Linked DNA regions of Homo sapiens: regions 2 and 3 are each linked to region 1. The links come from fine-mapping of genetic effects on gene expression. A gene starts in region 1. Each other region holds a variant in brackets. All regions are shown on one strand. Distances are between the middles of the regions. Region 1 holds the start of RPGRIP1 (RPGR interacting protein 1). Region 2 overlaps RPGRIP1 (RPGR interacting protein 1). Region 3 overlaps RPGRIP1 (RPGR interacting protein 1).

Region 1 (11,176 bases):
GAGGCTGAGGCAGGAGGATCCCTGGAGACCAGGATTTAGCTACCAGCAGCAAGACCGTGTCTCAAAAAGAGAAAAAAAAAAGATTCTAATGCTAGGAGGTCTAGTTCTAGAGGATATGCAAATAACCATTACACTATTATTAATAATGTAATGTATGCCAAGGTGGGAAAATCCTACCCATTCACTCAACAATACTTGTTAAACGTACTATGTAATTAGCTGATGCCACAAGAGCATAGAAGTAAACAAAACAGACATGGCCCTGCCCTTCAGAACAGAATCAAATATTAAATGGATAATTACTCAATTAATTGTTTATACTAAATTGTGAGTGCTACTGAAAATAAGTAAGAAGGTGCTATGAGACCTATATAATAGAGACTTCAAGCCCCTTCAGAAGATATTTGAAAATAAGTGACTTTATTTTAAAAACATCCTCCAGCTTGGGCAACATCTCTTAAATTTTTTTTTTTTTTTTTTTTGAGACAGAGTATCGCTCAGTCGCCAGGCTGGAGTGCAGTGGCACGATCTCGGCTCACTGCAGCTTCCACCTCCCAGGTTCAAGCGATTCTCCTGCCTCAGCCTCCCAAGTAGCTGGGACTATAGGCTTGTGCCATCATGCCCAGCTAATTTTTGTATTTTTAGTAGAGATGGGGTTTCACCATGTTGGCCAAGCGGTCTCAAACTCCTGACCTCGTGGTATGCCCACCTCGGCCTCCCAAAGTGCTGGGGTTATAGGCGTGAGCCACCACGCCCGGCCAAAATATTTTTTTTTAATGAAAAATAGTGGGGCATGGTAGTGGGTGCCTGTAGTCGCAGCCACTCAGGAGGCTGAGGCAGGAGAATCCCTTGACCCCCGGAGTTCCTGGCAGTATGCTATGATTGTGTCTGTGAGCAGCCACTGCACTCCAGCCTGAACAACATAGTGAGACCTCATTTCTGAAAAAAGGAACATATAAACTTCTAATTTCTTTCTTGTTTCTTCAATTTCTCTTTTCACTTTCTACTTAATGTTTTTCTCCTACTTTTCCTTTGTCTTCTTTGTTCCTCTGCTAATTTTCATCTCAGCAGTGACCTAAATCTGGCTTCCTGTAGGTTAAGCCTTCTTTAACGTATTTGCCATCTGTTCTCATTCTGGCTCTGAAGCACAGGATTTTATCCTCTGGTAATTTTTCATTAAGCTAATCTTTGTACAACTTACAAAATGCTTTTTTAGTTGACAAAGGTCACATTTCATTGTCAGTGCTTATTTTACTATTATGGTACAAACTGAGCTCTTGAGCAAATCTAGATGGCATAAAAATACTATGTGAACTATCTGGCCCACATTTTCAAATATAAAATTTATGCAGGGTCTTTTCCTTTTTTTTTTTTTTTTTTTTTTTTTTGAGAGGGAGTCTCCCTCTGTAGCCCAGGCTGGAGTGCAGAGGTGCGATCTGGGCTCACTGCAGCCTCCCTCTCCCAGGTTCAAGTGATTCTCCTGCCTCAGCCTCCAGATGCTGGAAATACAGGAGTGCGCCACCACGCTCAGCTAATTTTTGTTTTGTTTTTTTTTGAGATGGAGTCTCGCTCTGTCGCCCAGGCTGGAGTGCAGTGGCGCGATCTCGGCTCACTGCAAGCTCCACCACCCAGGTTCACGCCATTCTCCTGCCTCAGCCTCCCGAGTAGCTGGGACTACAGGCGCCTGCCACCGCGCCCGGCTAATTTTTTGTATTTTTAGTAGAGACGGGGTTTCACGGTGTTAGCCAGGATGGTCTGGATCTCCTGACCTTGTGATCCACCCGTCTCGGCCTCCCAAAGTGCTGGGATTACAGGCGTGAGCCACCGCGCCTGGCCTGTATTTTCAGTAGAGACGGGTTTTCGCCATGTTGTCCCGGCTGGTCTCGAACTCCTGACCTCAAGTGATCCACCCGCCTCTGCCTCCCAAACTGTTGGGATTACAGGAGTGAGCCACTGCACCTGGCTTGTTTGGTTTTTCTTTTGTTTTTGAGATGGAGTCTTGCCCTGTCGCCAGGCTGGAGTGCAGTGGTGCCATCTCCACACACTGCAACCTCCGACTCCCTGGTGCAAGCTAATCTACTTCCTCAGCCTCCTGAGTAGCTGGGATTATAGGCAGGCACCACCAAGCCCAGCTAATTTTTGTATTTTTAGTAGAGACGGGGTTTCACCATGTTGGCCAGGATGGTCTCAATCTCCTGACATCATGGTCCACTCGCCTCAACCTCCCAAAGTGCTGGGATTACAGGAGTGAGCCACCGCACCTGGCCTTTTTTTTTTTTTTTTTTTTTTTACAGGGTCTCCCTCTGTTGCCCAGGCTGGATTGCAGTGGCGCCATCTCGGCTCACCGCACCCTCCACTGCCCGGATCTAATCCATCTTCCCACCTCACCCTCCCGGATAGCTGGGATTACAAGTATGCGCCACCACGTCTGGCTAATTTCTTTGTATTTTTAGTAAGACAGATTCTGCCATGTTGGTCAGGCTGGTCTTGAATTCCTGGCCTCAAGTCATTGGCTGCCTTAACCTCCCAAAGTGCTAGGATTACAGATGCGAGCCACCATGCCAGGCCTCAGGGGACCTTTGTATTTTAACTTTTTTTTTTTTTTTTTGAGCTGGAGTCTCGCTTCGTTGCCCAGGCTGGGGTGCAGTGGCAAGATCTCGGTTCACTGCAACCTCCACCTCCATGATTCGCCCACCTCGGCCTCCCAAAGTGCAGGGATTATAGGCATGAGCCACAGCACCTGACCTGAAATTTCTGTTTTTTTTTTTTTTTTTTGAGACAGAGTTCTGCTCTGTCGCCCAGGCTGGAGTGCAGTGGCGCAATCTCGGCTCACTGCAACCTCCGCCTCCCCGGTTCAAGTGATTCTCCTGCTTCAGCCTCCAGAGTAGCTGGGATTACAGGCACTCACAACCACGCGCAGCTAATTGTTTTTGTATCTTTAGTAGAGACAGGGTTTCACCATGTTGGCCAGGCTGGTTTCAAACTCCTGACCTTAGGTGATCCACCCACTTCGGCCTCCCAAAGTTCTGGGATTACAGGTGTGAGCCACCAAGCCTGGCCAATGACTGAAATTTCTTTTTGTTTTTTTTTGAGATGGAGTTTTGCTCTTGTTGCCCAGGCTGGAGTGCAATGGTGCAGTCTCGGCTCACTGCAACCTCCGCCTCTGGGGTTCAAGTGATTCTCACTGCCTCAGCCTGGTGAGTAGCTGGGATTACAGGTGCCTGCCACCACGCCCAGCTAATGTTTGTATTTTTAGTAGAGATGGGATTTCACCATGTTGGTCAGGCTGGTCTCGAATTCTTGACCTCAGGTGATCCACCCACCTCAGCCTCCCAAAGTGCTGGGATTGCAGGTGTGAGCCACCGTGCCCGGCCTGAAATTTCTTTAACACAGAACAAAGTCTTACTGTCTACATTGAGAAGTACATTAAGCCTAGTGGAAAAAGTATCACGTAAATTCACTCCAAGATGTAATGAGAATGTTAAGGGAAACTGGTTGCCTGAAAGAGGTAGGAGATGTTTTAAAAATTAACAAAAGTCAGCCGGGAATGGTGGCTCACGCCTGTAATACCAGCACTGTGGGAGGCTAAGGCGGGTGAATCACCTGAGGTCAGGAGGTCAAGACCAGCCAGGCCAACATAGTGAAACCTCATCTCTACTAAAAATACAAAAAATTAGCTGGGTGTGGTGGCGGGTGCCTGTAATCCCAGCCACTAGGGAGACTGAGGCAGGAGAATCTCTTGAACCCGGGAGGCAGAGGTTGCAGTGAGCCAAGATTGTGCCATTGCACACCAGCCTGGGCAACAAGAGCAAAACTCCGTCTCAAAAAAAAAAAAAAAAAAAAATTAACAAAAGTCAGAGGTTCAGAAAAGAGAACACGATTATCAAACACAAACTTGGCTTACTTCAAAATTAATTTTGTCCTGCACTGTCTCTGGCTAGAGCATCTTAAAAAAGGACAGAAAATCCCAGATTTATCAAGAAATAGCTTGGGCAAGAAGCAACCTTAAGTGCATAAAAGCCCAGCTTTTAAATTTTATAAATCTGTCATTTAAACCTGGTAAAATATTATATTGAATTTTCCTCTCTTCACTGGGAAATGTATGTGTCCTGGATACTTTCTCTACTTCCTAATTGTCTCCCTAGCTTTATTTTATTTTATTTTATTTTATTATTTCATGGGATTTAGAGGAAGTCACATGGGGCCCATTAACTATGTGTTCATCCTCCTGGAAATCCCCGAACCTCATGCCAATAACCAGAATGGAGCTTTCTCAATGCACCCATTCAGTGCATTAAAGAGAGGATTTAGGCCAGTCGTGGTGGCTCAGGCCTGTAATCCCAGCACTTTGGGAGGCCAAGGTAGGTGGATCACCTGAGGTCGGGAGTTCGAGACCAGCCTGACCAACATGGAGAAACCTTGTCTCTAGTAAAAATACAAAATTAGCTGGGCGTGGTGGCGCATGCCTGTAATCCCAGCTACTCAGGAGGCTGAGGCAGGAGAATTGCTTGAACCCGGGAGGCAGAGGTTGCAGTGAGCCGAGATCGCACCATTGCACTCCTGCCTAGGTAACAAGAGCGAAACTGCATCTCAAAATAAATAAATAAATAAAGAGGATTTTATGTAACAATTGAGACCGTATTCCACTTAATATATAATATGAATGCAGTGACCAGCCTTGCAGAATTTTTAAGAACATTTAATTTTCTTATATCAAATCCTATTGCTTCATAATTACATCCCAAAGTTTGGTTTCAAAACGGTGGTCACGGTGAAATGGAAGATATACATTCTCTTACTCGAAAGCACTGGCACATGTGGACTGAATAGGCATGTTGATCCCACCAACGGTGCAGTGTTTGTTCTCTTCAAAGGGATCTCAGGGCTTCAGAACAACTCCCACTGTTGTTGCCCTTCAGATAAAGATTTAAAGAATATCGGCCGGGCGCGGTGGCTCAAGCCTGTAATCCCAGCACTTTGGGAGGCCAAGGCGGGCAGATCACCTGAGGTCAGGAGTTCGAGACCAGCCTCAACATTGAGAAACTCCATCTCTACTAAAAATACAAAGTGAGCTGGCTGTGGTGGTGCATGCCTGTAATCCCAGCTACTCGGGAGGCTGAGGCAGGAGAATTGCTTGAACCTGGGAGGCAGAGGTTGCGGTGAGCCGAGATCGCGCCATTGCACTCCAGCCTGGGCAACAAGAGTGAAACTCTGTCTCAAAATAAATAAATAAATAAATAAAAGATTTAAAGATCATCCTCTGAATACCAACAAATTTCTTTTAATCTCAAATCCCGCAAATGTGTTCTCAGCTTTAGTTTTAGTTGAGAAGTGGATCTGTTAAGGACCCTTTAAGCTGCTCTTTCTCCAAGTCAAACATGCATAGAGAAAAAGCACAGCCTTCACACACTCTGATCTACAAAGAGTTAACATCTTAAAAGCTAAACAGAACTGGATTAGCTCCTCTTTTAACAAGCCAGAAGGACAAGCTTATTGGAACCTAGAGTACTAAAGGACACCAGAACATTGAGAGAAAAGAATTAGCGACAGCTATCTGGAGCAAGCAAGAACTGTAAGTTTCTATCTGATGCATATTTATAGTTTCCTATGTCTTCCCTAGGGGTGTTTTTGAGAAGAATGAAATAAGTTTATTCTTTTTTTTTTTTTTTTTTTTGAGACAGAGTCTTACTCTGTCGCCCAGGCTGGAGTGCACCGGCACTATCTCTGCTCACTGCAACCTCTGCCTCCCAGGTTCAAGCGATTCTCCTGCCTCAGCCTCCCAAGTAGCTGGGGACTACAGGCATGCGCCACCATTGCCCGGCTAATTTTTGTGTTTTTAGTAGAGACGGGGTTTCACCATGTTTGCCAGGCTGGTCTTGAACTCCTGACCTCAGGTGATTCACCCGCCTCGGCCTCCCAAAGTGCTGGGATTACTGGCATGAGCCACCGCGCCTGGCCTGGTTTATTCATTTTCTATTGTACCACCAGTCTCCCAGGCATCCAGCACAACATTACCAAGTCATCTTTAATCCTGTCACCCTCTTAACTCTATCTCACGTCCAACCAGTTGTCACATCTTTTGATTCTCCTTCCTCAGTGTCTTCATGATCCATCCTATTCTTCCATCCCCCACCCCCCTCCTTCCCTAGTTCAAGACTTCTTGCCTGAACTATAGCAATATCCTCTTAACACTGTTCTCTCCCCAATTTCCAAATCACTAATAGTAGATGAATCTTCCTAATGCTCTTCCATAGCTCTAATTATATTGCTCTTTTGCTCAGAAATGTATCCACTATCTGCAGAATGAATAAAACTCCTTTTCAAATTAATTAATTTTTAATTGACAATTTGAAATTGTATATATTTATTGTGTAAAATTTGTTGCTTTGAAATATATATATAGAGAGAGTGGAAAATGGCTACCTTGGGCTTTTCTTTTTTTTTTTTTTGAGACAGAATCTCTCTCTCTCGTGAGGCTGGAGTGCAGTGGCTCAATCTCGGCTCACTGCAACCTCTGCCTCCTGGGTTCAAACAATTCTCCTGCCTCAACCTCCCGAGTAGCTGGGACTACAGGTGCGCACCACCATGCCCAGCTAATTTTTGCATTTTTAGTAGAGACAGGGTTTTACCATGTTGGCCACGGCCAGGATGGTCTTGATCTCTTGATCTTGTGATCTGCCCGCCTTGGCCTCCCAAAGTGCTGGGATTACGGGCGTGAGCCACCACACCTGCCCAATCTTGGGCTAATTAAAATATGTATTACCTCATATGCTCATCAATTTTTTGTGTTTGATGAGAACACTTAAAAATCTACTCTTGGCCCAGGCGTGTTGGCTCACACCTGTAATCTCAGCATTTTGGGAGGCTGAGGCGGGTGGATCACTTGAGATCAGGAGTTCAAGACCAGTCTGGCCAACATGGCAAAACCCTGTCTCTACTAAGAATAGAAAAATTAGCTGGGCGTGGCGGCTTGCGCCTGTAATTGCAGCTGCCTGGGGGGCTGAGACATGAGAATTGCTTGAACCCTGGAGGCAGAGGTTGCAGTGAGGCGAGAGCATACCGCTGTACTCCAGCCTGGGCAACAGAGTGAGACCTTGTCTCAAAAAAAAAAAAAATAAATAATAATAATAATAATAATAATAATAATAATCAGAGTAAGGGGAACTGGCTACAAAATTTTAAATGCTTGCCCAGTGATACAGAGTGTAAAAAAGAAAAAAAAGAAGTCTGGGCAGGGTGGCTCATGCCTGTAATCCCAGCACGTTGGGAGACCGAGGCTGGCGGATCCCAAGGTCCGGAGTTCGAGACCAGCCTGGCCAAAATTGTGAAATCTTGTCTCTACTAAAAAATACAAAAAATTAGCTGGGCATGGTGGCAGGTGCCTGTAATCCCAGCTACTCTGGAGGCTGAGACAGGAGAATCGCTTGAACCCGGGAAGCGGAGGTTGCAGTAAACTGAGATTGCAACATTGCACTCCAGCCCAGGCAACAATGTGATACTCTGTCTCGAAAAAAGAGGAAAAGAAAATTTTAATTGCTGATGTCATCAAGCTGGCTTTATACGTCTATCCATCTATCACTAGTAAAGGGTTCTTCACCCTCACTAACCTATACTTGTCCAAGTGCACTGCAATTCTGAATATCACTGCAAGGAAATTTTTTTTTTTTTAAGACGGAGTCTTGCTCTGTCACCCGGCTGGAGTGCAGTGGCGTGATCTCACCTCACTGCAATCTCTGCCTCCCAGGTTCAAGCAATTCCCCTGCCTCAGCCTCCTGAGTACCTGGGACTACAGGCACGCACCACCATGCCTGGCTAATTTTTTTGTATTTTAGTAGAGACGGGGTTTCACTATGTTGACCAGGATGGTCTCGATCTCCTGACCTCATGATCAGCCCGCCTCAGCCTCCCATAGTGCTGGGATTACAGGCGTGAGCCACCACGCCGGGTGGAAGTTTCTTCAGTCTTTCATCCTGTTGAGTTCAAAACAATTGATAAACCCTTTTAGAATCTACATTCCATTTTTTTTTTTTTTTTTTTTTTGAGACAGAGTCTCGCTCTGTCTCCCAGGCTGGAGTGCAGTGGCGTGATCTCGGCTCACAGCAAGCTCCGCCTCCCAGGTTCACGCCATTCTCCTGCCTCAGCCTCCCCAGTAGCTGGGACTACAGGCGCGTGCCACCACACCCGGCTAATTTTTTGTATTTTGTAGTAGAGATGGAGTTTCACCACGTTAGCCAGGATAGTCTTGATCTCCTGACCTTGTGATCCACCCATCTCGGCCTCCCAAAGTGCTGGGATTACAGGCGTGAGCCACTGTGCCCGGCCTACATTCCACTTTTTCATTCCTGAGAAATTAAATCTGGCCACTGGATGTTCAACACGCCTTCACTGACAGTCTCAACTGGCTTTTCTTCTCTAGCATTCCAATAAACTCCATTTCATTCTTAGAGCTTCTGTGACTTCAGTTTTAATGATACTTTTCAATTGCTCCATAGTGCCATATAGCATTGGTGGTGCGTCAATGTGCTCTGGGCCCAGATATTAAGAACAACAGCATCCCTTCTACTACAGCTCCATTTTTGCAAATGGCTTCAGGTCCAGAGGACCAAGCTTATGATGCAGTCACCTTTCCTTTTCCTTCACATTACTTTTCTACAGTAGGAAACTAGGAAGGTGGGTGACTAAGTAAACCTGTAGATGCTACTCTATTTATTTTATTTATTATTATTATTTTTTGAGAAGCTGTCTCACACTGTCGCCCAGGCTGGAGTGCAATGGTGTAATCTTGGCTCACTGCAATCTCCGCCTCCTGTGCTCAAGCGATTCTCCTGCTTCAGCCTCCAGAGCAGCTGGGACTACAGGCATGAGCCACTACACCCAGCTAATTTTTGTATTTTTAGTAGAAATGGGGTTTCGCCATGTTAGCCAGGCTGGTCTCAAACTCCTGACCTTGTGATCTGCCCGCCTCGGCCTCCCAAAGTGCTGGGATTACAGGCATGAGCCACTGTGCCCAGCCCCTATATATGGTACTTCAAATGGAGATTTACTTGTAAACTAAATGCAGATTTACTTTTTTTTTTTTTTTAGACAGAGTCTCACTCTGCTTTGCCCAGGCTGGAGTGGAGTGCAGTGGCACGATCTTGGCTCACTGCAATCTCCACCTGCCGGGTTGAAGCGATTCTCCTGCCTCAGCCTCCCGAGTAGCCGGATTACAGGCGCCTGTCACCATGCCCAGCTAACTTTTGTCATGTGGCTGGGCTAGTCTCGAACTCCTGGCCGCAGGTGATCCATCCGCCTCAGCCTCCCAAAGTGTTGGGATTATAAACGTGAGCCACCGTGCCTGGCCTGAGATTTACTTGTAATCCTAGGTCTAACATGCGAAAGTACTTAAACTTTGGGGTGATTATTCAGCTTTCTTAAAATAGGCATGCTATGAAATCTGTATAGATCTATTTAAGACTATGACATTGGAAAGATGCTCTCCATTTATTGTGATTTTTAAAAATGAAATGTTACAGAACAGAGTATGAATTATCCAATTCAAGTTAAATTGCCCGGAAAGCAGATCAATACAATGTTTACATTTTCTCTAGGTGATAGAATTTCTCCATTATACTTTTTGCTTTCTTCTTTATATTTCTCTGTTTGTTCAAAATAAGCTTCTGAACACCCTTCTCCAGTTGACAAGTCAAGCTAGCTTCAACAAAAAGGGAGAATTTGTTGTATAGGGCACAAGACTCTACTATAGAACCTAAAGGTAGGAACAGAGCCAGACAGTGGCATTTATGGAAATAGGGAAAGACTGGGAAACAATCAGACTGGTAAGAGAAATTACAATTCCTCTTTGGGAAAGGTGAGTTTCAGTTGTCTAGTATGTTTACTAGGGGAAACATTTGAAAGGGGAAATGTTTAAAAAGAATTTGTACAAATCTGAAAGTCAAGGCTGGAGAACTAAATTTTTTTTTTTTTTTTTTTTGAAGATGGAATCTCTCTCTTGTCACCCAGGCTGGAGTACAGTGGCACGATCTCTGCTCACTGCATCCTCCGCCTCCCGGGTTCAAACTATTCTCCTGCTTTAGACTCCTGAGTAACTGGGATCACTCTGTCGTGGCACATGTCACCGCGCCCAGCAAATTTTTGTATGTTTAGTAGAGACAGGGTTTCACCATGTTGGCCAAGCTGGTCTTGAACTCCTGACCTCAGATGATTTGCCCGCCTCAGCCTCCCAAAGTACTGCGAATACAGGCGTGAACCACTGCTCCCAGCTGAGACATAAATTTTGGAGACAAAACTGGAAAAGACTGGAATCAAGAACAGAATGCTTTAAGAACTTTTTGACTCACTTCAGTCCCTCAGTGTCATTCTCTCTCTTGTTCGTTCATTCTACTTTTCATACATTCGGTGTTTATTTGTTGAGTACCTGCTATGTGCCAATAACTGTTCGGGTACTGCATCTATAGAGGTAAACAAGATAAACCATTTTTCTGCCTTCAAAGTCACTATGTTTTAGTGAGAGGGGACAGACAATAAACTAGTATAAATAAATGAAGGTAGTTTCTGTGTATAGTAAATGTCACAAGGGAAATAAACAGGGTGAGGTGACAGAGTATAAGACTGGTAAGAGAAGGGGAAGTGCTCAGTTCAGCTACCAAAGTCAGAGAAAGGCCTCCTGGCAAATGAAAAGATGCTTGAGAGACCAAAGGATCAGATGGAGTCAGCCAAATAAAGAGCAAGAAGGAGGCCAGGTGCAGTGGCTCAAGCCTGTAATCCCAGCACTTTGGGAGGCCAAGGCAGGCAGATCACAAGATCAGGAGATCAAGACCATCTTGGCTAACATGGTGAGACCCCGTCTCTACTAAAAACACAAAAAATTAGCCGGGCATGGTGGCACGTGCCTGTAGTCCGAGCTACTCAGGAGGCTGAGGCAGGAGAATCACTTGAACTCGGGAGGTGGAGGTTACAGTGAGCTGAGATCGCGCCACTGCACTCCAGCCTGGGTGACAGAGTGAGACTCCATCTCCAAAAAAAAAAAAAAGAGCAAGAAAGAGCTTGATGGTTGGGAGAGCAAAGAGAGGGCAAGTGGTGAGGAGTGTTGTGAGCTAGAGGAAGGAAGGTACAAGGTGTGATTGGAGGAATAAGAAGCGGATCAGCTGAGGTTGGGCTTTACAGGCCCTGGAAA
Region 2 (5,000 bases), 38 kb after region 1:
GGTTCAAGTGATTCTCCTTCCTCAGCCTCCCAAGTAGCCGTGACCACAGGTGTGTGCCACCATGCCTGGCTAATTTTTGTGGTTTTTTTTTTTTTTTTTTTGAGACAAAGTCTCACTCTGTTGCCCAGGCTGAGAGTGCAGTGGCGCAGTCTCGGCTCACTGCAACCCCTGCCTCCCGATGTTTAAGCTATTCTTCTGCCTCAGCCTCCTGAGTAGCTGGGATTATAGGTGCCGGCCACCACACCTGGTTAATTTTTTGTATTTTTAGTAGAGACGGGGTTTCACCATGTTGGGCAGGCTGATCACCAACTCCTGACCTCGAGATCTGCCTGCCTCAGCCTCCCAAAGCACTGGAATTACAGGTGTGAGCCACCGCGCCCAGCCAATTTTTGTATTTTTAATGGAGATGGGGTTTCACCATGTTGGCCAGGCTGGCCTCGAACCCCTGACCTCAGATAATCTGCCCACCTTGACCTCCCAAAGTGCTGGGATTACAGGTGGGAACCATCCAGCCTGGCCGGTAAGTTATTTATTTATTTCTTGAGACGGAATCTCACACTGTTACCTGGGCTGGTGTGCAGTGGCACGATCTCAGCTCGCTGCAGTGTCCGCCTGCTGGGTTCAAGCAATTCTCCAGCCTCAGCCTCCCAAGTAGCTAGGATTACAGGCACCTGCCACCACACCCAGCTAACTTTTTGTATTTTCAGTAGAGACAGGGTTTCACTATGTTGGCCAGGCTGGTCTCGAAGTCCTGACCTCATGATCTGCCCTCCTCGGCCTCCCAAAGTGTTGCGATTGCAGGCGTGAGCCACTGTGCCCAGCCTGGTAAATTATTTTTAAACCACATTTACTAAAATGATAAATAAGAAATAAGACATAAAAAGAAATAATTGTTTGATTATTAGTGTCATTTCATTTGTATGAATGACCAAGAACTAGCCATGTGGCTGGGCATGGTGGCTCACACCTATAATCCCAACACTTTGGGAGGCCGAGGCAGGTGGATCACCTGAGGTCAGGAGTTCAAGACCAGCACAGCCAACATTGTAAAACCCCGTCTCTATTAAAAATACAAAAATTAGCTGGGCCTGGTGGTGGGTTACTTTAATCCCAGCTACTCAGGAGGCTGAGGCAGGAGAATCGCTTGAACCTGGGAGGCAGAGGTTGCAGTGAGCCAAGATTGCACCCCTGCACTCCAACCTGGGTGACAGCTCGAGATTCTGTCTCAAAAAAAAAAGAAAAAAGAAAAAAAAAGGAACCAGCCATGTGTATTTTATACTCAAAATGGGTCTGCTCTGACAGCTTGATACAATAGGGTGGAGGATACAGTTGTTGAAAAGTTTAATTCCCGCCCTTCAGCATAGTAATTTATAATCTAGGTCAAAGACAAATATTCTCTAAACTCACCGTTGGTGAAGGTAGATGGAGGCATGGGGTTTGAGAAAAGGAAGATTTTGTTCCTCATTTCTAATCCGGCAGGCCTGAGAAGGTCTTGATACATAGTTCCCTGACTAAAGAAAGCCATCATGGTGGAGAAGTTCCTTGGGAAATGGATATGACTTGGGGTGTTTGCTCAGTCAGATATCTGAGACCTAAACAGAAATGGTACTGAGCAATAACTCAGTAGGACTCAAAAGTTCCAAGGCAGTTGGTAAATGACAGTTATGAATAAAGCAAGGGCAGAAAAAAACATGTAGGGGAGAGAATGAGGAACTAGGTCCAGGAGATGCTGAAACTGGATAATAAAGACGTCATATCACACCCCTTGGGGTATCCATCTGAGAGCTTGCTTTCCATTGCCAGCATGCTGGACAGCAGTGACAGCTCCAGTCAGCCCCACTGGAGCAACGAGCTCATAGCGGAACAGCTACAGCAGCAAGTCTCTCAGCTGCAGGATCAGCTGGATGCTGAGCTGGAGGACAAGAGAAAAGTTTTACTTGAGCTGTCCAGGGAGAAAGGTAGGCTGGACCTTGAAGAGCTCTCTCAAATGTGGCATCCTCTACCTCTGGTTTGGGAGAAGATAACTTGAGCCATCATTTCTTTAATCCCCTCACTTGATCCTATTCTTTTGTGGGTTGTAGGTAACTAGAATGAGAACACTAGCAATAGATCAGATCTACAATCAGGAAAACATGACACTTACCTACCTCTCATGTATACTTTTTCCTATATAATGTCTTTCCATTTGAGAAGATGCTAGTTTTTGTTTGTTTGTTTGTTTGTTTGTTTTTGAGGTGGAGTTTCGCTCTTGTTGCTCAGGCTCGAGTGCAATGGCACGATTTCAGCTCACTGCAACCTTCACCTCCCAGGTACAAGCGATTCTCCTATCTCAGCCTCCCAAGTAGCTCGGATTACAAGCATGCACTACCACGCCTGGCTATTTTTTTTTTTTTGTATTTAGTAGAGATGGGGTTTTACCATGTTAGTTAGGCTGGTCGTGAACTCCTGACCTCAGATGATCCACCAGCCTCAGCTTCCCAAAGTGCTGGGATTACAGGCGTGCGCCACTGTGCCCGACCTGCCAGTTTTTAATTTATTATGTTTTTTAAACGTTCAGTTTATTGAAAGTTTT[C/G]TTTTGTTTGGTTTGGTTTGGTTTTGTTTCTGAGAGAGTCTCACTCTGTCACCCAGGCTGGAGTACAGTGATGCGATCTGGGCTCACTTCAACCTCTGCCTCCCAGGTTCAAGAGATTCTCCTGCCTCAGCCTCCCGAGTTGCTGGGATTGCAGGTGCCCACCACCACACCCAACTAATTTTTTGTATATTTTAGTAGAGACGAGGGTTCACTATGTTGGCCAGGCTGGTCTGAAACTAACCTCAAGTGATCCACCCGCCTCAGCCTCCCAAAGTGCTGGGATTACAGGTGAAAGCCACTACACCTGGCTGAAAGTATTGAAAGTGAATTTCTTTGTCTTTTATCCTTCTCATCATTTTAGAGGTAACTGGAATACTTTTTTTTTTTTTTGCCATCCAATTCTTGAAATTGAGTAGCAAATTACTATTCTTGGTTACCACTGCCAGTTCACCCCCGTCTTAACTCTTGGATCTCAGGAGATAGGTATTTGGAACATTTTTAAATACTGTCAAAAAGACCTTCATCTTACTACTTTTTCCTAGCCTGGACCTTAATATTTAGTTTTATCAAATTTATATCTCATCAAGTTTTAGTGTATTCAAATAGGGAACGGAAGGAAAAGAAATGTGTGAAATCAAGAAAAATAGAGGCAAGAACCATGTTTAGGAGCACATGCCAATTAGTATGTTTGAAGCACAAATGAAGTCTTGTAAGGACCTTCAGGGCAATCTAATTTAATCCCTTCTCTAATGCATGATGGAAATGATCTGCTCACTAAACACCGATTACCTTTATTCCCTGAAAAACACACACACAGCCTGGTGTGGTGGCTCATGCCTGTAATCCCAGCACATTGGGAGGCCGAGGCCAGCAGATCACATGAGGCCAGGAGTTTCAGACCAGCCTGGCCAACATGGTGAAACCCCATCTTTACTAAAAACACGAAAATTAGCCAGTCGTAGTGTCGTGCGCCTGTAATACCAGCTACTCAGGAGGCTGAGGCACAAGAATCGTTGAACCCTGGAGGCATAGGTTGCAGGGAGCCAAGATCGCACCACTGCACTCCATCCTGAGTGATGGAGTAAGACTGTCTAAAGAGAAAAACACACACACACACATTGGAACACAGAAATGCCCATCCTCCATCCAGGCCAGGGTGGGTGTGAAGATGGGTGCCACAGAGAGCTAGTAACCTAGAAGTCAGAATGGAGTGGGGGTGGAGTTGGTGAGATACTGGTTTCGATGCTGCTGTCAAAAAGTTTGGATTACCCTAGTCAAGTGATTCCCTTTCTGTTTTGTGTTGTTATTGTTATTCCACTTTCCACTCTACCATTCTGCAGGTGTCTTTTGTTTTCGGAGTGCAAGTAGTATCACCTCAGTTTACTGAGTCAATAAGCTAGAGTCCTCCTCTGTAGAAATAATAGAGAATTGCTTCTCAAATTTATAACATTAATTAAACCTTAGTGGGAAGATTAAATTCACACTTGATCCAACTCTGACCATGGTGATAAATAACTACAGAATTTCACATTTCTGGATTATTTTTCCCCAGCCCAAAATGAGGATCTGAAGCTTGAAGTCACCAACATACTTCAGAAGCATAAACAGGAAGTAGAGCTCCTCCAAAATGCAGCCACAATTTCCCAACCTCCTGACAGGCAATCTGAACCAGCCACTCACCCAGCTGTATTGCAAGAGAACACTCAGATCGAGGTAAGAGCCTCTTTAAACAAACTAGTCCACTCTGCAGAGAGATCTCTGGCAAATATCTCTAGGGAAGATGATGAGATTAGAAAACTAACTAAATAATATTTTGTCCTGACTGAGGACACTCTTTTTTTTTTTGAGACAGAGTCTCGCTGTCGCCCAGGCTGGAGTGCAGTGGCGCGATCTCGGCTCACTGCAGGCTCCGCCCCCTGGGGTTCACGCCGTTCTCCTGCCTCAGCCTTCCGAGTAGCTGGGACTACAGGCACCCGCCACCTCGCCCGGTTAATTTTTTTGTATTTTTAGTAGAGACGGGGTTTCACCGTGTTAGCCAGGATGGTCTCGATCTCCTGACCTCGTGATCCGCCCACCTCGGCCTCCCAAAGTGCTGGGATTACAGGCGTAAGCCACCGCGCCCGGCCCACTCTTTTTTTTTTTTTTTTTTTTTGAGATGGAGTTTTGCTCTTGTTTCCCAGGCTGGAGTGCAATGGCGCGATCTCGGCTCACTACAGTCTTTGCCTCCCAGGTTTAAGCAATTCTCCTTCCTCAGCCTCCCGAGTAGCTGGGATTACAGGTGCTTGCCACCACAGCCGGCTAATTTTTTGTATTTTTAGTAGAGACAGGGTTTCGCCATTTTGGCCAGGCTGGTCTCGAACTCCTGACCTCTGGTGATCCGCCCAACTCAGCCTCCCAAAGTGCTGGGATTACAGGCACGTGCCACTGT
Region 3 (5,000 bases), 31 kb after region 1:
GGCTTTAAGGAGCGGAGAGTTTAATAGGCAAGAAACAAGGGAGAAGAAAGACGGAAGAAGCTCCCCTGTACTGAGACAGAGGGAGAAGGACTCCAAAGCAGAGAGGGGAGACCTCATGTGCCGGGAAAAGTGGCTGCTTATATGAGTAGGCAGGAGGAGGTAGTGTCTGATTTGCATAGGGCTCAGGGGATTGGTTTGACCAGGCATGTCACTCATGTAGCCTGTGGAAAAAACTGGCCCTCCTACCCTAGTCTTTTAATATGCAAATGAAGGGCGCCATGATGTTCTACACACGTGGGGATATGTGGGGGTGGCCATGTTGCCAGGTACAGGTCGGGGAAAGGACAGGAAGACAAGGGCGGGAATCGCCATGTTTGGGTGGACCCAGTTTCTAAAGACCTGTATTTGCATATCAAAGGTTGCCTTCCCGGCTGTAAGAGCCAGGGCTTTCCTGCTAGACAAAAAACGTTTCTGGAGCTGCTTTAAAGGACGAGAAAACTTTCCAAGGACCCCTTTTCCTCTCTATCTGCCTAAAATTATTTTTAATAACTCCTTTAACAGTGCCAGATCAGAAAAGGATTAATGACTGGGTGCGGTGGCTGGAGCCTGTAATCCCAGCACTTTGGGAGGTCAAGGAGGGAGGATCACTTGAGCTCAGGAATTCGAGACCAGCCCAGACAACATGGCGAAACCCCATCTCTATCAAAAATAGAAAAATTAGACAGGCATCGTGATGTGTGCCTGTAGTCCTAGCTACTATGGAGGCTGAGGCAGGAGGATTGCTTGAGTGCTTGAGCCCAGGAGGCAGAGGTTGCAGTGAGCCGAGATCCCGATACGGCACCTCAGCGTGAGACTTTGTCTCAAAAAAAGAAAAAAGAAAAGGATTAATAAAGGAATAGATTTGTGAGTTAAATACTGAAATACTAAAAGATTAGCTTGTGTTAATAAGTGTGTAAGAGAAGAGGGGGCTTTCCATGAGAGCAGAGGTGAGAAACATCAGGTCTGGTCATGAAGGACACACTAAGAATTTTTTTTCTCGTTGTCATTAAAGACAGAACATGCTAGGAATTTAGACTTTATCCTACAAACAGCAGAGAGCTATGTGAAAGGGTTTTAAGCAAGTTGATATGATCAATTTTTTTCTCTCTCAAGATTATTTGACCTTTTTTAAAAAATAAAAAATAAATTTAAAAAAAAAGTTTGGGAGGCTGAGGTGGGTGGATCGCTTGAGGTCAGGAGTTTGAGACCAGCCTGGCCAACATGGTGAAACCCCGTCTCTACTAAAATACAAAAATTAGGTGTGGTGGGGGGCACCTGTAATCTCAGCTACTTGGGAGGTTGAGGAAGGAGAATTGCTTGAACCTGGGAAGCCGAGGTTGCAGTGAGCCAAGATTGTGCCGCAGCACTCCAGCCTGGGCAACAGAGTGAGACTGTCTCAAAAACAAAAACGAAAACTTACCTCTCATATTTGCTACAAGGATTAAATGAGATAATATGTGTGAAATGATTATAATGATCATGATGTGGCAGGTAATGAAACACATAGTAACACATAGCAACTACTCAACTAATTATAGCTGTTGTTATGATCATTCTTTTTTTTTTACTAAAACTGAAGAGATCTTTCTGAAGTGTGCTAAGTAACAGTACCTAATTTAAGATTAAACATTTTTCTTGGATAATCCACCAAGTACAATGCAAATGTTAATAAATGACCCTTCATTCTTTTTTGAGAAATGGTGTGAATGATTGCAGTCACAGACTACTTGGCAAGCTAGGGCAGGGGAAAAATAGCAACAATTAGTAAACAAGTACACAAATTGATTTGTTTTGTGGGATTTTTATAATGTCTTTAAAAATGTTAAGCATTATATTACAGTGATAAATATATCATGAAATTGATAAATCAATAAAATAATAATAATTTCTTTCTTCCAGGCATACGAAACCTTGCTCCAGAAGGTACTTAATGAGAATTGAGTCTCTG[T/C]TTCTTAGTAACCAGAATAATCAAACCCAAAGAAATCTATGTTCATCTCCAAGTAACATAACACCAGAATTTAGCTAACTAAATCAATGTTATTATGTCATATAGTTTCTGTTAAAAATGATACTATTATGATTATCAAAAGATACAGATACTTATTGCACTGTTTTCATAAAAATTGAAATATGAAATTGTAGTTGAGAAATATTTGGCATGGTATTTTTAAGCCTATTGCTGGAGCAAATTATAGCATTTGCTCAAAACTTCCTAAGAGTATTCTTCTAGCATGTGTGAGGTGATGAGATATAACAAAGTTGTTGCAGGTATTCTCAGATGGTCTTAAATATTTGGCCCTATTCACCACTGTGAGTGGGCTGCATGTGAAGCTAGGTGAATGTCTGTGCTTAAGAATCACCACTAAGACAGAGTTCCAAACGAGACCACCCAGCTGTGCCTCACCAGAGGAGTCCGCCAGAAACACACACAGAACTTCTGGAGTTAACATGTCACTTGTCTAGGTACAAACGTAGTCATCATAAAAAAGCAGTCAAATAGCTTAGAAAGTGAAGGCAGCTTTGGAAGGTGGCAACTAATTTAAAGCTAGGGATTAATTTGAACCTTGAGAAAATTAAGGCTCAAGGGCCAGGCGCGGTGGCTCACGCCTGTAATCCCAGCACTTGGGGAGGCGGAGGCGGGTGGATGACCTAAGGTCAGGAGTTCGAGACCAGCCTGGCCAACATGGAGAAACCCTGTCTCTATTAAAAATACAAAAATTAGCTGGGCGTGGTGGCTCATGCCTGTAATCCCAGCTACTCAGGAGGCTGAGGCAGGAGAATTGCTTGAACCCGGTAGGCAGAGGTTGCAGTGAGCCAAGCACTATTGCACTCCAGCCTGGGCAACAGAGCGAGACTGTCTCAATAAATAAATAAATAAATAAATACAAGAAAAGAAAATTAAAGCTCAAATGATGAACTACAATTGCCCAGAATGGAAACCCTACCTACCAGGGAAATTATACTTCCAGAGAAATGCTAGGGTGAAAAACAAGGTTAACGAACAGTACAAAGGTAATAAGCTATTAATCAAAGTCATTCTTTGTGACATCTGTTAGAGAATGCTAGGGTTGCTGGTGTCTGGAGACCACTCGTGCTGAGTGATATGACCATTCCCAGAGGTACTTTCCTTTTGACCCAGAATCAGGGAATCCTGAGTGCAGCCCATGAGGCCCTCCTCAAGCAAGTGAATGAGCTCAGGGCAGAGCTGAAGGAAGAAAGCAAGAAGGCTGTGAGCTTGAAGAGCCAACTGGAAGATGTGTCTATCTTGCAGATGACTCTGAAGGAGGTAAATAATAATAGTTGAAAGATACCATCTACATTTCAACTTCAGGGATGTTAGAATGTGTATCTTAGCAACAATATGAGTATTGCATTTTTTCAAATGACAAAAACGAAGCTCCGAGTAGTTAAATCATTTGCTTAAGATTACACCATTAGAGGGAAAGCTTGGATTTGTACTTATGTCTGTTTTTCAAAGTCCTTGCTCTTTCATAATGTTTTGCTGCTTCCCTAGCAGTAGAAACCCAGAAACAGTGAAGACTTATTTTGGAAAATCCTCATTAATCCCAATACAAGTTTCTAGCCGACCTTCAATTGGTTCAAGTCTTTCTAGTTGGATGGCTTCTCAGACACTGGAGATGGTGATAGAAAGCCTCTCACCCACGCCCCTCCCTGCCATGGACAGGGGAAATCCTGTGCAGGGGAATAGATTTTAACATTTTATCTCAAGGGCTACTATCACTCTTAGTTTCAGGAGAGAGTTGAAGATTTGGAAAAAGAACGAAAATTGCTGAATGACAATTATGACAAACTCTTAGAAAGGTGAGTACCACATTTGGGTCCCAGAGCAGTGTTACTATGAAAGACATTATAGAAAGTTCATTCCTAATACCTAGCATTAATAAATATATGGGGAAATTGGTACTCAATATTGTTAGTGAGAATATTAATCGGCAGTCTTTTGGAAGGGAATTTGACACTATTAAAATGTTAAATGTGCATATCCTCTTTTTTTTTTTTTTGAGATGGAGTCTCGCTCTGCTGCCCAGGCTGGAGTGCAGTGGTGCGATCTTGGCTCACTGCAACCTCTACCTCCCGGGTTCAAACGATTCTCCTGACTCTTCTTCCTTTTTATTTTTTTAACCAGCAATTCCTTTTTTCTTTTTTTGAGATGTAGTTTCTCTCTGTCACCCAGGCTGGAAAACAGTGGCATTCTAGGCTTACTGCAGCCCCAGTCTCCCAGGCTCAAGCAATCCTCCCACCTCAGCCTCCCCAGTAGCTGGGACTACAGGTGTGCACTGCCACACCTGGCTAATTTTTTTCTATTTTTTTGTAGAGACAGGGTTTTGTCAGGTTGCCCAGGCTGGTCTCAAACTCCTGGGCTCAAGTCATCTGCCTGCATCAGCCTCCTAAAATGCTGGGATTACAGGCACGAGCCACCATGTCTGGCCCCCAAATTTTTTGGGGGGCTGGGGGGAATCAAAATGAAAAAATTCTCTTGTGTATGTGCAAATATATGTATATAATAAGAATGTTGCTGGGTGCAGCAGCTCACACCTGTAATCCTAACACTTAGGGAGGCAGAGGTGGGAGGATAACTTGCGCCTAGAAGTTCGAGACCTGTCTGGGCAATATAGTGAGACCCTGTTCTCCACAAAAAGAAAAAAAAAAAAAAGAATGTGAATTACTGCCCTGATAGTAATAGCAAAAAAACAAAAACAAATAAACAAATAAAAAGGAAACCACTGATAAGAGATTGATCACATAAAGCATGTTGCATCCTCACAATGAAGTGCTATGCAGCTGTTAAAAATGAGATAGATGGCCAGGCGCGGCGGCTCATGCCTGTCATCCCAGCACTTTGGGATGCCGAGGCGGCCAGATCACGAGGTCAGGAGTTAGAGACCAGCCTGACCAACATGATGAAGCCCTGTGTCTACTAAAAATACAAAAATTAGCCA

What was found. PIP is the estimated chance that this variant, and not a neighbour inherited with it, causes the effect.
Region 2: its variant is the best candidate, but not a certain one, in a credible set for the expression of RPGRIP1 in whole blood (INTERVAL, PIP 0.56).
Region 3: its variant is the best candidate, but not a certain one, in a credible set for the expression of RPGRIP1 in whole blood (INTERVAL, PIP 0.58).

What each region holds. Positions count from the first base shown.
Region 1 is chr14:21,274,588-21,285,763 of GRCh38, forward strand. It overlaps RPGRIP1 (RPGR interacting protein 1), which reads left to right and starts at 5,496. Exons shown (of 25, transcript NM_020366.4): 1 at 5,496-5,572.
Region 2 is chr14:21,315,893-21,320,892 of GRCh38, forward strand. RPGRIP1 (RPGR interacting protein 1) reads left to right here. Exons shown (of 25, transcript NM_020366.4): 11 at 1,804-1,958; 12 at 4,125-4,285. Among named protein-coding and RNA genes, the nearest start is that of RPGRIP1, 38 kb to the left of the region's middle. The variant C/G (reference allele first, on the strand shown) is at 2,573.
Region 3 is chr14:21,308,646-21,313,645 of GRCh38, forward strand. It overlaps RPGRIP1 (RPGR interacting protein 1), which reads left to right. Exons shown (of 25, transcript NM_020366.4): 8 at 1,939-1,962; 9 at 3,179-3,325; 10 at 3,788-3,861. Among named protein-coding and RNA genes, the nearest start is that of RPGRIP1, 31 kb to the left of the region's middle. RefSeq lists enhancers at 239-766, 589-748. The variant T/C (reference allele first, on the strand shown) is at 1,988.